Homo sapiens: one gene and its partner. The protein of the gene in region 2 interacts with the protein of the main gene of each other region in a pairwise test. Each region holds a gene or a part of one and is shown on either strand. Other genes may lie near its edges.

The links. Proteins that work in one complex are often made in the same cells at the same time.
Region 1: the proteins of SUCLA2 (region 2) and TNFRSF10D interact in binary tests that used the Homo sapiens proteins (3 or more experiments, as listed by UniProt).

Annotation. Positions count from the first base shown.
Region 1 is NC_000008.11:23,140,000-23,147,038, forward strand, and holds part of TNFRSF10D (tumor necrosis factor receptor superfamily member 10D precursor), read right to left. Parts: coding exon 6,962-7,039; intron 5,923-6,961; coding exon 5,669-5,922; intron 5,091-5,668; coding exon 5,059-5,090; intron 4,637-5,058; coding exon 4,451-4,636; intron 1-4,450. UniProt on the Homo sapiens protein: Receptor for the cytotoxic ligand TRAIL. Contains a truncated death domain and hence is not capable of inducing apoptosis but protects against TRAIL-mediated apoptosis. Reports are contradictory with regards to its ability to induce the NF-kappa-B pathway.
Region 2 is NC_000013.11:47,942,263-47,949,301, reverse strand, and holds the end of SUCLA2 (succinate--CoA ligase [ADP-forming] subunit beta, mitochondrial precursor), read left to right. Parts: intron 1-273; coding exon 274-362; intron 363-5,856; coding exon 5,857-5,931; 3' UTR 5,932-6,646; downstream 6,647-7,039. UniProt on the Homo sapiens protein: ATP-specific succinyl-CoA synthetase functions in the citric acid cycle (TCA), coupling the hydrolysis of succinyl-CoA to the synthesis of ATP and thus represents the only step of substrate-level phosphorylation in the TCA.

The DNA of each region.
Region 1 (7,039 bases), on a different chromosome or scaffold from region 2:
CGGGGCGTAGCTGGGTACGGTGGCTCACGCCTGTAATCTCAGCACTTTGGGAGGCCAAGGAGGGCGGATCACAAGGTCAGGAGATCGAGACCATCCTGGCTAACACGGTGAAACCCCACCTCTACTAAAAATACAAAAAACTAACCAGGCGTGGCAGTGTGCGCCTGTAATCCCAGCTGCTGGGGAGGCTGAGGCAGGAGAATGGCGTGAACCTGGGAGGTGGAGCTTGCAGTGAGCTGAGATCGCGCCACTGCACTCCAGCCTGGGTGACAGAGCAAGACTCTGTCTCAAAAAGAAAAAAAATCAGTAGCATATCTATATACCAATAATGTTCAGGCTGAGGACCAAATCAATAACACAATCCCATTTACAACAGACACACACACACACACACACACACACACACACACACACACACAATACCTAGAAATACCTCTACCCAAGGATGTGAAAGATCTCTAAGAGAATTACAAAACACTGCTAAAAGAAATCATAGATAACATGAACAAATGGAAAAACATTCCATGCTCATGGATTGGAAGAATTAATATGGCTAAAATGGGCATACTGCTGAAATCAATCTACAGATTTAATACTACTCCTATCAAATTACCAATGTCATTTTCCACAGAATTGGAAAAAATTATTGGAAGTAACTGAATCACGTGGACTGGTTTTTCCAGTTCTGTTCTTGTGATAGTGAATAAGACTCACAAGAGCTGATGGTTTTATAAAGAGCAGTCCCCTGCACACGCTCTCTTGCCTGTCGCCATGTAAGATGTGCCTTTGCTCATCTTTCACCTCAGGCCATGATTGTGAGGCCTCCCCAGCCATGTGGAACTGTGAGTCCATTAAACCTCTTTTTCTTTATAAATTACCCAGTCTCAAGTATTTCTTCATAGCAGTATGAAAATGGAATAATACAACTCCCCATTCAACAGCTGATGCTTCGGATATTTGGCTAGCCATATGCAGAACAACGAAAACTAGACCCCTACTTTTCACCATATACACAAATTAACTCAAGGTAGATTAAAAGTTTAAAGGTAAGACCATGAACTATAAGAATTCTAGAAGAAAACCTAGAAAACACCCCTCTGGACATCAGCCATGGCAAAGAATTTATGATTAAGTCCTCAAAAGCAATGCAATAAAAACAAAAATTGTCAAGTGGCATCTAATTGAACTAAAGACCTTCTGCACAGCAGAAGAAACTCTCCACAGGCCGGGTGTGGGGGCTCACACTTATAATACCAGCACTTTGAGAGGACGAGGCAGGCAGATCACCTGAGGTTAGGAGTTCGAGACCAGCCTGACCAACAAGACAAAACCCCATCTCTACTAAAAATACAAAAATTAGCTGGGCATGGTGGCACGTGCCTGCAATCCCAGCAACTAGGGGGGCTGAGGAGGGAGAATCACTTGAACCCGGGAGGCGGAGGTTGCAGTGAGCTGAGATCATGCCACTGAATTCCAGCCTAGGTGACAGAGCGAGAGTACATCTCAAAAAAAAAAAAAAGTATCAACAGAGTAACAGACAACCTACAGAATGGGAGAAAATATTTACAAACTATGCATCTGACAAAGGTCTAATATTCAGGAGCCATATGCAACTTAAATGAACACACAGAAAACAACCCCATTAAAAATGGGCAAAAGACATGAACACACATGTCTCAAAAGAAGACATACAAGTGGCCAACAAACATATGAAAAAATGCTCATCATCATGAATCATCAGAGAAATGCAAATCAAAACTACAGTGGGATACCATCTCATACAGTGAGAATGGCGATTATTAAAAAGCCAGTAACAGTAAATGCTGGCGAGACTATGAAGAAAAAGGATCATTTATATACTTTTGGTGGGAATGTAAATTAGTTCAGCCAGTATGGAAAGGAGTTTGGAGATTTCTCAAAGAATTTTAAAACAACTACTATTTAACACAGCAAACCCACTACTGGGTATACATAGAAAAGAAAACAAATCTGCTGGGCGCGGTGGCTCACACCTGTAATCCCAGCACTTTGGGAGGCCGAGGTGGATGGATCACGAGGTCAGGAATTCAAGACCAGCCTGCCCAAGACGGTGAAACCCCGTCTCTACTAAAAATACAAAAAATTAGCCGGGTATGGTGGCACATGCCTGTAATCCCAGCTACTCTGGAGGCTGAGGCAGAGAACTGCTTAAACCTGGAGGGGCGGAGGTTGCAGTGAGCCGAGATTGTGCCACTGCACTCCAGCCTGGGTGACAGAGCGAGACTCCCTCTCAAAAAAAAAAAGGGAAAACAAATCATTCTACCAAAAGACACCACTATCCATAATAGCAGTGACATGGAATCAACCTAGGTTCCCATCAACAGTGGATTGGATGAAGACAATGTGGCATATATACACCATAGGTTACCACACAGCCATAAAAAAGAATGAAATCATATTGTTTGCAGCCACATGGATGAAGCTGGAGGCCATCATCCTAAGTGAATTAATGTAGGAACGCAAAACCAAATACTGCGTGTTCTCATTTATAAGTAGTAGCTAAACATCAGGTACTTACGACCATAAAGATGGCAACAATAGACACTGGGGACTACCAGGGCGGGGAGGGAGCGAGAGGAGGAAGGGGTGAAAAACTAACTGTTGGATACTGTGCCCACAACCTGGATAAAATCATTCATACCTCAAATTTCAGCATCAAACAAACTTACATATGTACCCCCTGAATCAAAATAAATTTGAAAAAGGAAAAATAAAAAATGAAAAAAAGTTTCCTTGGCAGTGTATTATATGTAAAGTAATCCCTGTAATGTAAACAAAATGTACATACGCTTGTATGAATATACATGGCATATGCATAAAGATTTCTACAAAGAATCACAAGAAATTATCTGTTGTATTCACCTGAATGAAGAAGGGCTGGGGGCTGGAGGAAGTGTTAGGGGACTACCACTATGACTCAGCACCTTTGTTTTTTTTTTGTTTTTGTTTTTGTTTTGAGATGGAGTCTGACTCTGTAGCCCAGGCTGGAGTGCAGTGGCGTGATCTCGGCTCACTGCAGGCTCCGCCTCACGGGTTCACGCCATTCTCCTGCCTCAGCCTCCCGAGTAGCTGGGACTACAGGCACCCGCTACCACGCCCGGCTAATTTTTTGTATTTTTAGTAGAGGTGGGGTTTCACCATGTTGGCCAGGATGGTCTCCATCTCTTGACCTTGTGATCCACCCTCCTCGGCCTCCCAAAGTGCTGGGATTACAGGCATGAGCCACGGCGCCCGGCCGACTGAGCACCTTTCTATAGTGTGGCAGATGTGTGGCTCTGCATTTACCACTTTCAAAAAATGTGCAGCGCGGCCAGGTGCAGTGGCTTATGCCTGTAATCCCACCACTTTGGGAGGCCAAGGTGAGAGGATGACTTGAGGCCAGGAGTTTGAGACCAGCCTGGGCAACATAGCAAGATCAGATCTCTACAAATTACAAAACAAAGGTGCAATGCGATTCAGCAGCGTGGAGTAATTGTTGATATTTTTTGTTTATTTCCTTACCTTTTTATACTTCCCTTCATTAAAAAAAATGGGGTATAGTTATAGGAAAGGAAGAAAATGGGTGGAAAGTGAACCTTGTCTAGGTAAGTATTTGACAAGTGATCAAAGAGGAGCCAAAAGCAGAGAAAAATAGGAGAATCAGTTCCTAAACAGGCGTGGAGGAAGGAGACAGTGACTCACAACAATTCAGGGAATTCCTCACTTCACACAGCATCACAAAAGAAATGGCACCTACGTTCCACTGGTGTATGCTACAAACCAAATCATTCTTTAAAAGTCCACAAAAAATTAGGTAGGATCATCTTATTTTATCCTGAAGGAAAGAACTTAAAAAAAAACAAATGTGTGTCCAGATTTCACACCTACTCAATGTCATATCAAAACTAGTGAATCGATGTGAATAACTGGATGTGTGTGTTTCTGTAATACAAAAGCACTTCTACACACTGACTCAGAAATCCTACTTCTTCCCAGAAGCCTCCTTACATACTTGATCAGAAATCTGGACAAAGATTTACTGTGAAATATGTTCAATGTAGTAAGAATTTTGAAGAACATTTAAAACTTCCGCTGTTTCAAGCAAGGGCTCCCTGACTTCTGTTAGGAGCACACGATGGAGACTGTGCAGCCTTATTCAGTCCTCAGTGAACCCTGTGACACCCACTCTATGCCTGTGGAGATCCAGGCTCTGGGGACACAGCAAGGACAGGACAGGGAGTAAGAAGCAGATGTCCTGCAGACTGGCACGGTCACCACCTCAGTGCAGCTGCTCCGTCCCCTGCAGTCCCCTGTCTCCCAAAGGCTCCATGTCCCCTTGGGCCAGGAAAGAGGAGGCACTGCCATGTCCCACTGTCTACAAAGTCCTGTGCAGGCTGCACGCCAGGCAGGGCACAGTCCCTCCTCAACTCACCAGCAGACGCTGTGGCTCCTCTGGCAACTCTACAGTCACACCTGTTAGCTCTGCCAGCTCCTGACCTTGGATTTCCTGCTCAGAGACCTGGGTGGGCTGCAAGTATCTGTTACTCAGGGTCTCGTTGCGGGCATTGTCCTCCGCCCCAGGAACTCGTGAAGGACATGAACGCCGCCGGAAAAGGACCTTGGGAAGACAAAGAGCCCACTCAAGTCCACACCCCGGGCTCAGCTTCAGGGTCCCCAGTACACAGCTGGACCTGCCATCCCCAACCCCTTCCAATGAGGTCACCCCAGGCAGCTGAGGCTCAGCACATCCAGGACCCCATGCTGAGGTGGGTCAGGTGGTCACCCCATCCCCATGGGGCCAGCTGTGGAGTGATGGTGTCACCGAGGCTGCAGGAAGGACAGGGCTGCAGCACGGCCTGCTGGTCTGTGTGCTGCTCAAAATGGCCGTGTGTCCCCCACAGTCAGCCCAGATCCCCCAGGCCATGTCAGAGAGTCAGGGCAGCCATGAGGACAAGGGATTGTGCCCACCCAGGCTCGGCAGTGGATGGGAAGCAGTTCCTGAACCCACGAAGCCCCCAGTTTCTGGAGAAACCAACTCACTCTGTGCACACGTTCGGGACCTCCTCCACCACCTGGAAAAGAAGCAGTCTCCTGAGCAGGCGGGGAGGGGCCCATGCAGCACCTCCCTCCCAGAGGACAGTGGGGCGCAGGGCTGGCTGGGGGCTGGGACACTGGACAAGGAGCCCTGGGGCTGGGGACAGAATGGGGCCTTGCAATTAGGGGACACCCTGAGGAAGGGGGATGAGAAGGGGAACTAGAGTAAAAACCAACACGTGGAAAATCTCTGTGTTCTGCTCTGACCAAGGCTGAATAAATCCCACGACCACTTCTCATCCTGACCCTTGTCACCCAGTTGAGGAGCTGACTGCCCCCTGCCTGGCTGGGCCTGAAGATAGGAGGAACTGGCCCTGCCCTCCTGGAGTTGGCTCCGGGAGATGAGGGGTCCCCCAGCCCTGAGAGAGGGACTGATGAGACCAGGGTCCTTGGGGATACACAGGACGTGGGGATGGGGCGATCACAAGAAGGAAGACCAAGCCAGGCTGGAGACGCTTGGACCAGGGGCAGGGATGGGGATTACTGTCTGTGGGAACGGAGTGGGAGAGGGCAGGGCAGACAGTGCCCAGCGCTCCCACCCTCAGCCAGCACCTACCTGAGCAGATGCCTTTGAGGTAAGAAATGAATTTCTTCCGACATGAAAAGCCAACCACAACCACAGCTAAAATGATGACTAAAACCACTATGATGATAAGGTAGTGATAGGGAGAGGCAAGCATCCCCAGGATGGTGGTCACTGTCTCCTCCGCTGCTGGGGTTTTCCCAGTGGAACTGGCAGCTGATTCATTTTTGCACTTGATGTCACTCCGGGGCGTACAATTACTGACCTTGACCATCCCTCTGGGACACCTGGGTACACACAGAGAGGGAGACAGGGACTCTTGATGGAAAGCTGGCCAGGTGGGATGAAAGAGGAGCCACCCTCCCTGCCCAAAGTCCCTGAGAAGGCGTCAGGAGGACAGGCTCCTCGTGTCAGCAGTGGGTCCCCCTGTGCTCCCTTCTTGAGGCTGGGGAAGGGTCTGAGCATGCACACTTCAGCCCCTCGGCCTCCCTGCTCTGGGGTCAGAGCTGTAGATCCAGGAGCCTTCTGTGCTGGGCACACACTGAGCTTCCCTGGGCTGCAGGGGAGGCCTGCGTTAGGAGGAGCCGCACTCCAGGGGAAGATCACAAGCCCCTGTGGCCACAAGCTGAGCCCCTTCCTCCAGTTAACACACAGTACAAGTGAGTCCTCGCCCCACCCTGTCTGCCGCTGGTTCCTCCCAACCACAGCAAACACTGGAGGGCCAGAGAAGAGCAAGTTACTCTTTGCCCCTAAAACCCAAATAGGATAAAGAAGGACTTAGTGAGAAATCGGGGGCCAGGGGTGAGGCCGGCTGGGTGGGCTCAGGTCCTCATGGGAACTTAAGGGAGCTCCACCCATGGCCTTATTATGACTTTTGTGGGCTACGGACACTTTTGTCTTTATGGGTCCCTGCCCACATAAAAAATATTAAAAATTACATTTTTTAAACCAACTTAGAGTAAGGAAAAATACAAGCCAGGCTGGATTCAAGTGTTTTCTTCTGATTTCAAAAGGAAATTACATTTCCTAGGTTGCCTGAAAAGGTTCAAGGGACCTAGAAAGTCACCTCCTGTGCCCAGTGAACAATTCAGCCTGGACAAAGGGACTCCTGCTGGGGAGGGTATGGGAAGGGGCTGCTGCAGGGGGTAGGGGTGGGGACAGGCAGATGGACCAGGAGGGGCCAACGCAGGCTCAGGAAACCCCACAGGCTCAGGGAGGCCTCGGGCCTGGAGGATCCATGGGGTCAGCGGAGAGATAGAGGTACCAGGTGAATCAGGTCTTTTCAGGTTCCTGAAAGCTGTTGGGAGCCCCTGGCTGCTGTCTTACCCTGTTCTACACGTCCGGCACATCTCAGGGGAGTTTTTATCCTGGAAGCTTCCTTTTTCACACTGACACACGGTGTCT
Region 2 (7,039 bases):
CTTGGTATAATTTGATACACTTTTTATTTGTTGTGATTTGTCTTGAATTCTGACTTGCCTGAATTACTAAGCAAGTCAGAATTATTGTAAGGCAAAATATTTTATAAGATAACCTGGGCTTTTACAGTGTTTTCTTTGGTTTAGAAGTGTTTATACTAAATAATGGAAGTCTCCTCTGTTGAGGTTTTATTCTTATACCATGTTTTGGCAAACATTTTAAAATGCTTTTGTGTGTGTATTTAAAACATTTATATTTGCATAAATCATTTACAGGTACACGAGTCGATGATGCTAAGGCACTGATAGCGGACAGTGGACTTAAAATACTTGCTTGTGATGACTTGGATGAAGCTGCTAGAATGGTAAATTGGCCATGTTCATCTAAGGAGGATTTATAAACACAGATTCTAAAATGAACCTAATTATTAATACAGCTAATAATTTGTGTTTCAGCTAAATATTATGAGTGTAATGAATGGTTAAAGAAAACGATTATTCATGACTCTTGCTGAAAGATGTTAAGGCAGACTTTATTCAGAGGGACTGTTGCAATAAGCATAGAGACTACTGCAGTGGAGTTTTGCAGTAGGGGAGAAAGATTGGGCCCAACTCCAAATACAGCAAGGAAAAGTGGGAATTTATAACCAAGGAAGAGGGTCGGGGCAGTGGATGAAAAATTACTAAAAGGATACATTATGGGTAAGGGAGGATCCTGGCTAAACTGACTTAAGCAAGATTCTTGGTAAAATTGGACTATGCAGGGACAAATACAGAAGTCCAAAAGTTAGGGCCAAGTTGAGAAGAGAGTTCAGAGTAGCCTTTGGGAGGCTGAGGCAGGAGGATTGCTTGAGTCCAGGAGTTTGAGACTAGCCTGGGCAACATAGGGAGACCCTATCTTCACACATGTGCGCACACACACATGCACGCACACACACATGCACGCATATGTATGTATGTGTGTGTATCTATCTATATATTCGATAAATATATATTGAAAAAACAAAAGAGAGTTTGGTCAAGGAGAGAATCTTTGTCAGAACGTCTTATATCTGTGATCATCTTAAACAACGGTCAGCTCCTGCCCAATCTTGTTTGTTGTTTTGTCTGTATTCTTACTTCCTCCCACAACTGTGATTATTTTCAAGCAAATCCCAGACATTATATCATTTCATACATTTCATCATGCATCTGTAAAAGATAAAGGTATTGATAATGGTATAAAAAAATTACTGTTACTTGTTTTAGGTGGGGTAATGGTATTATGGTTATGTTTTATAAAAATACAGTCTGTTGAAATTTCTGAGTCTCTTATATCTTTTGTTTAAGTTCTTTGTAAGGGTCAGAATAAGTCTCTGCATTGTAGTTGGTTAATATGTCAGTAAGTTTCTTAATCTGTTGGTTTCCCCTTTTAAAAAGAAAAGTATTTTCTGTGGTTTATTTGTTGAAAAATCCAGGTTGATGGTCTTGTTAAGTTTCTCATAGTCTGGATTTTAATGGTTGCATCTTTAGGCTGTCATTCATTTACTGTGTTCTCTGCCCTCTCTGTGTTCTCTGCCTTGTGTATTTCCTGTAAACTGGGAGTTCAGTCTGTAGGCTTGACCATATTCATATTTGATTTTGGGGAGCAGGGAACAAGAATATTTCATAGTAGGTGTTTAATTTCATCAAAACGTATACAATGTTAATCTTTTTGTGGTATTACTAGCCATTGACATCATAGCTTAGATCCAGTATTTTGTTTGTGTTGCAAAGCGTTGCTATTGTAATTCTGTCATTCTTCACTTATTATATGTAATGCTTCTAAAAAGTAATACTTCCACGTGTCAACCATTTGTTACCATGGAGTACATTTTGCATAGGAAAAGTAGGATAATTACCTGATTATTTGCCTTTATTGACCAATTTTCAAAATAATGTTTGTTCTATTATGTCCAATAAAGGTGACCTAGGGTTTTTTTTGTTTTTTGTTTTTTTTGTATTTTGTTTACTTTTTGTTTTCAGGTGTGTGTGTGTGTGTGTGTGTGTGTATTGTGCGTGTGTGCATACACATGCATACACATGTGTGTTCCACTGGCATACTGTTTTGAACTTATGACTTAAAACATTGATGTAGTTCAGTTCATGTAAGTTGTGATTGAAATTGTCCAACCTTTGGTCTTTGGGAACCTCTTCAGGTTAACTGTTGCATCCTTCTGAGAAGCCCTCTATCTGGTATGATAAAATGTTTCAGGCTCATCTTTACGTTTCTTGAGTCAGAACTTGAATGGGCCAAATGGTATTTAGAGAGCACAATTTGGCCTTATGAGTATTCATAGATACTGGGTTGATTATTGTTTCTGAGCTTTTTAAGTGGCAAGTCTGAGAAAACATGTATTTTTTAAAGAGGTAATACTTGAGTTCATACTGATATTTTCAATGCAAGTCCAGGAGTATAGATTTTTTTTTCTTATCTGACATCTGTTTGTACCTTCGTTCATGCCATACTATCATAATTATTCATTTGCTTTGTCCCTTAGTACAGATATGACAGTTTTATAATAAGAATACCAACAGTCTGATTACTGAAAGCAATTATATCTGCATTTCTTTCTGTCCTTTAGGGTATGTCCCACAACTTAGTGGATTTTAAAATTCATGTGAAATAATTCTCTGTGTGTTTTGTCTCAGCTTTGTATAGTTTCATTGTTTTTAAAGGGATTGCTTTTTTTAAAAAAAAAAAAACACAACCTTTTGTTTTTTATTTTGTATTTACATGATTCCAAAGTGGAAAGTATAGAACAAGGTATTATCAGGGAATCTAGCTTTTATATATTTCCCTCTTTACTTCTTCCCCAACAGGCAACCTTTTTACCTTTTTTTTTTGTTTGTTTTTTAAGAAAGTTTTGGTTTATCTTTCCACTTCTTAAAAACATAAGCTAATTGTATGTATATAACTATATGTATGTGTGCAGTAGTCCCCCCTTATCTGCAGGGAATGTGTTGCAAGACCCCTAGTGGGTGCCTGAATCACAGATAGTTCCAAACCTGTATATACTGTGCTTCTTCCTGTACATATATTCCTTTGATAAAGTTTATGTATTAGACATAGTAACAGATTAACAACAACTAATAATAAAGTAGAACAATTATAACAATATACCGTGATAAATGTGAATGTGGTCTCTCAAAATATCTTATTGTTCTATACTCACCTTTGTGGTGATAATGAGATGATAAAATGCTTACTTGGTGAGATGAACTGAGGTGAATGATGAAGGCATTGTGACATAGTGTTAGGCTACTACTGACCTAATGATGTAACAGAAGGAGAATCATCTGCTTTGGTTCATCCTGGATCATTGAGCCATGATGTTGATTGTTGGATGTCAAGAGTAGATAATGTTGATGACTAATGGAAGAGTAGTTTATACAGCGTGGATACGCTGGGCAAAGAGATGGTTCACATTCCACTTGGAGCAGGATGGTGCAAGATTTCATCACACTTCTCAGAACAACACACAGTTTAAAACTTAATGACTTTTTTATTTCTGGAATTTCTCATTTAAAATTTTTGGACCACAGTTGACTGCAGGTAACTGAAACTGTAGAAAGTGAAATTGGATAAGGGGGGGACTTTGTGTGTGTGTGTGTGTGTGTGTGTGTGTGTGTGTGTGTGTGTCTCCCTTTTCCCACTTTAGATTAATGGTAATCTATACTTTGTTTCTTTTACTTAACAATAATGTGTATCAGAGAACACTTCATAGTAGATACAGAGAGATGAGAATTTTTTGTCTTCCCTTCCATTATGTTTATAGACATTTCATTGAACACTCGAACACTCTTTGGGCTCTATAGCTTAATCAATAGTAGATTCTTGATTTTTTTTTTTTTTTTTTTTTTGAGACTGAGTCTTGCTCTGTCACCTAGGCTGGAGTACAGTGGCGTGATCTCAGCTCACTGTAACCTTTGCCTCCTGGGTTTAAGCAATTCTTGTGTCTCAGCCTTCTGAGTAGCTGAGACTACAGGTGTGTGCCACCACGCCCAGCTAATTTTTTTTTTTTTTTTTTTTTTTTAAGACAGAGTTTTGGTCTTGTTGCCCAGGCTGGAGTGCAGTGGTGTGATCTCGGCTCACTGCAACCTCCATCTCCCAGGTTCAAGCAATCCTCCTGCCTCAGCCTCCCAAGCAGCTGGGATTACAGGCATGTACCACCATGCCTGGCTAATTATGTATTTTTAGTAGAGATGCGGTTTCACCATGTTGGTCAGGCTGGTCTTGAACCCCTGACTTTGTGATCCACCTGCCTCGGCCTCCCAAAGTGCTGGGATTCAGGTGTGAGCCACTGCGCCCAGCCTTGTATTTTTAGTAGAGATAGGGTTTTGCCATGTTGACCAGGCTGGTCTCGAACTCCAGACCTCATATGATCCTCCCACCTCGGCCTTCCAAAGTGCTGGGATTACAAGCATGAGCCCCCAGGCTTGGCCAGACTCTTGAATTTACCGAGTTAATGTGATGTCATTTCACAAAAATAATAAAAGTCTTATGTCCTTCTTTGGGAAAGTACTTACTAGTAAACAAAATTTAACTCTAGCTTGGAGACAGAAGAATTTAAACTTAAACCTGAATTAAAAATAAAGAATTTGAGCAAGGGAATAGTAGGAGAAAGTATTTCAGAAAGCCTATTTTGACTTTGAGATGTGGGATATATTGAAGGGAAAAGGGGAGAGATAGTAGGAGTCCATCTAGTGCAATACTTAGATATGAGAAAAGGTGAAGGTAATAAATAGGTTATAACTTGTCTCTGAAAGTGCACTTTTTTGGAATGAAAACTTAAATTAAGAAAAGCTTGGAGGACATGAAAAGAAGGAGAAGAACCAGTAGGACCTTGATCAAATAGATCATGAGAGGTAAAAGTGAACAGTTGATTTAAATTATGACTACAGTGTTTTTATTGACTGGGAGATTATAGAAGTCATAACAATAATAATATTGAATGAGATGATGATGATATTAGCAGTTACTACTGTTTATTGAGTGTTTACTGTGCATGCAATGCTAAGCTGTTTTCTTCAAGGATTATCTCATTTAATATGAATTTGGTGATAAAATTTCCATTTTTATAGATGAAGAAACAGGCTAGATAAGTTAACTTATTCAAGGTTGTATGTCATAAGCATCAGAGGGGGGATTTGCAGCCAAAGATATCTAACTTCAAAGCCTTTTCTTAACTAATTTACTGAGGAAGAGAGAAGCTGAGTTTGTTTTTTTGGTCTTAGACATGTCTAAATTTGTATGATGTTTTGTATGGTAACTGGTGGATATTTTTAGACAGATTGTAGAGAGAATTGGAACTCAGGTTAGCAATTGTTAACTTACTGACAAAAAGTAAAATACTAACTAGTAGACCCAAATTTCTATCCCAACATTTTAAGTTAAGATTGTATACTTATTTCAAAACAAATTTTTACTTAGATGTGCTTTGAGTTGTGGAGTATCCAACAAAGACACTCACTGTTTCTGTCTTTAAGATAAAATTTAGAATAATATATATATATATACACACACACACACACACACACATACATACACACACATTTTATACACACATATATAATCTTATGTAATACATATGTGTAATCCTAGCAGGTGGTATAACATCTTAATCAGAAAGTATTTAATTGAAGTTTGGACTATGAGGAGTGTCAGACTTGATTATCCTTTGAGAATGTCATTTGCTTATAAGAACGTAATGTGATTTATAGCAATGTCAGAATAGTCCAGATGTTTTAAATGGAAAAAATTGAGTGTACATTAATTTTGCACTGACCTGTAGTTCTGAATTTACCTTTTTGTGAAAATTCTTCGTTCTTTTCTTTTAGGTTGTAAAGCTCTCTGAAATAGTGACCTTAGCGAAGCAAGCACATGTGGATGTGAAATTTCAGTTGCCAATATGATCTGAAAACCCAGTGGATGGCTGAAGGTGTTAAATGTGCTATAATCATTAAGAATACTGTGTTCTGTGTTATTGTTCTTTTTCTTTTTAGTGTGTGGAGATTGTAATTGCCATCTAGGCACACAAACATTTAAAAGGATTTGGACTGCATTTAATTGTACCATTCAGAATGGACTGTTTGTACGAAGCATGTATAATGCAGTTATCTTCTTTCTTTTGTCGCAGCCAGTCTTTTTTGCTTCTCCTACAAAACGTAACTTGCAATTTGCCAGTTTATTATTGTTGGATACAAAGTTCTTCATTGATAAGAGTCCTATAAATAAGATAAATACGAAGATAAAGCTTTATTCTTTAGTGTTAAAATACAGTATATCTAATAACTAGCCTCATTAGTAGAGCAGTATATTAAAACAATGTTTTATGTAAAAAGTGTTTATCTTCAGCACCAAATACATGATAAATGTATCAATCACTATTTATAAACAGAGCTTTCAAACACTCCTCAGAATATTCTTCTAAGTATTTTGATGAAGTAACTTTGTAATTATTTGAACATTGTTTTAATCATTAGGAAACACTGATTAACTGCAAGTCTTCATGATTCTGTCATATTAAGAAACACCTGTAGGTTTGCTTCAAATAAAGGCATATATACCAAGGACTTACAGACAAAATTAAGAATGTCAATTTAAGTTAATAAAAATCTCCCAATATGATTTGGGTTCATGGCTTTTGTTTGCTTGTTTTGAGGTAAACACAGTAGAAGTTGATTTGTTCGTTATTGCAGTATAGAGGTCTAAGCACCAATTCTTAGATCATATACTTGCCATGACAGTGATTTGTTTTTTTTTTTGAGTCAGGGTCTCACTCTGTCACCCAAGCTGGAGTGCAGTGGTATGATCATGCTCACTGCAACCTCTGCCTCCTGGGCTCAAGCAGTCCTCCCACCTGAGCCTCCTAAGTAGCAGGGACTACAGGCACACACCACAAAAAAACATATGTGTTTTTTTTTGTTTTTGATTTTTGTTTTTTTTTTGGTAGGGACAGGGTATCACTATGTTGCTTAGGCTGGTCTCTTACTCCTGAGCTCAAGCAATCCTCCTGGCTTT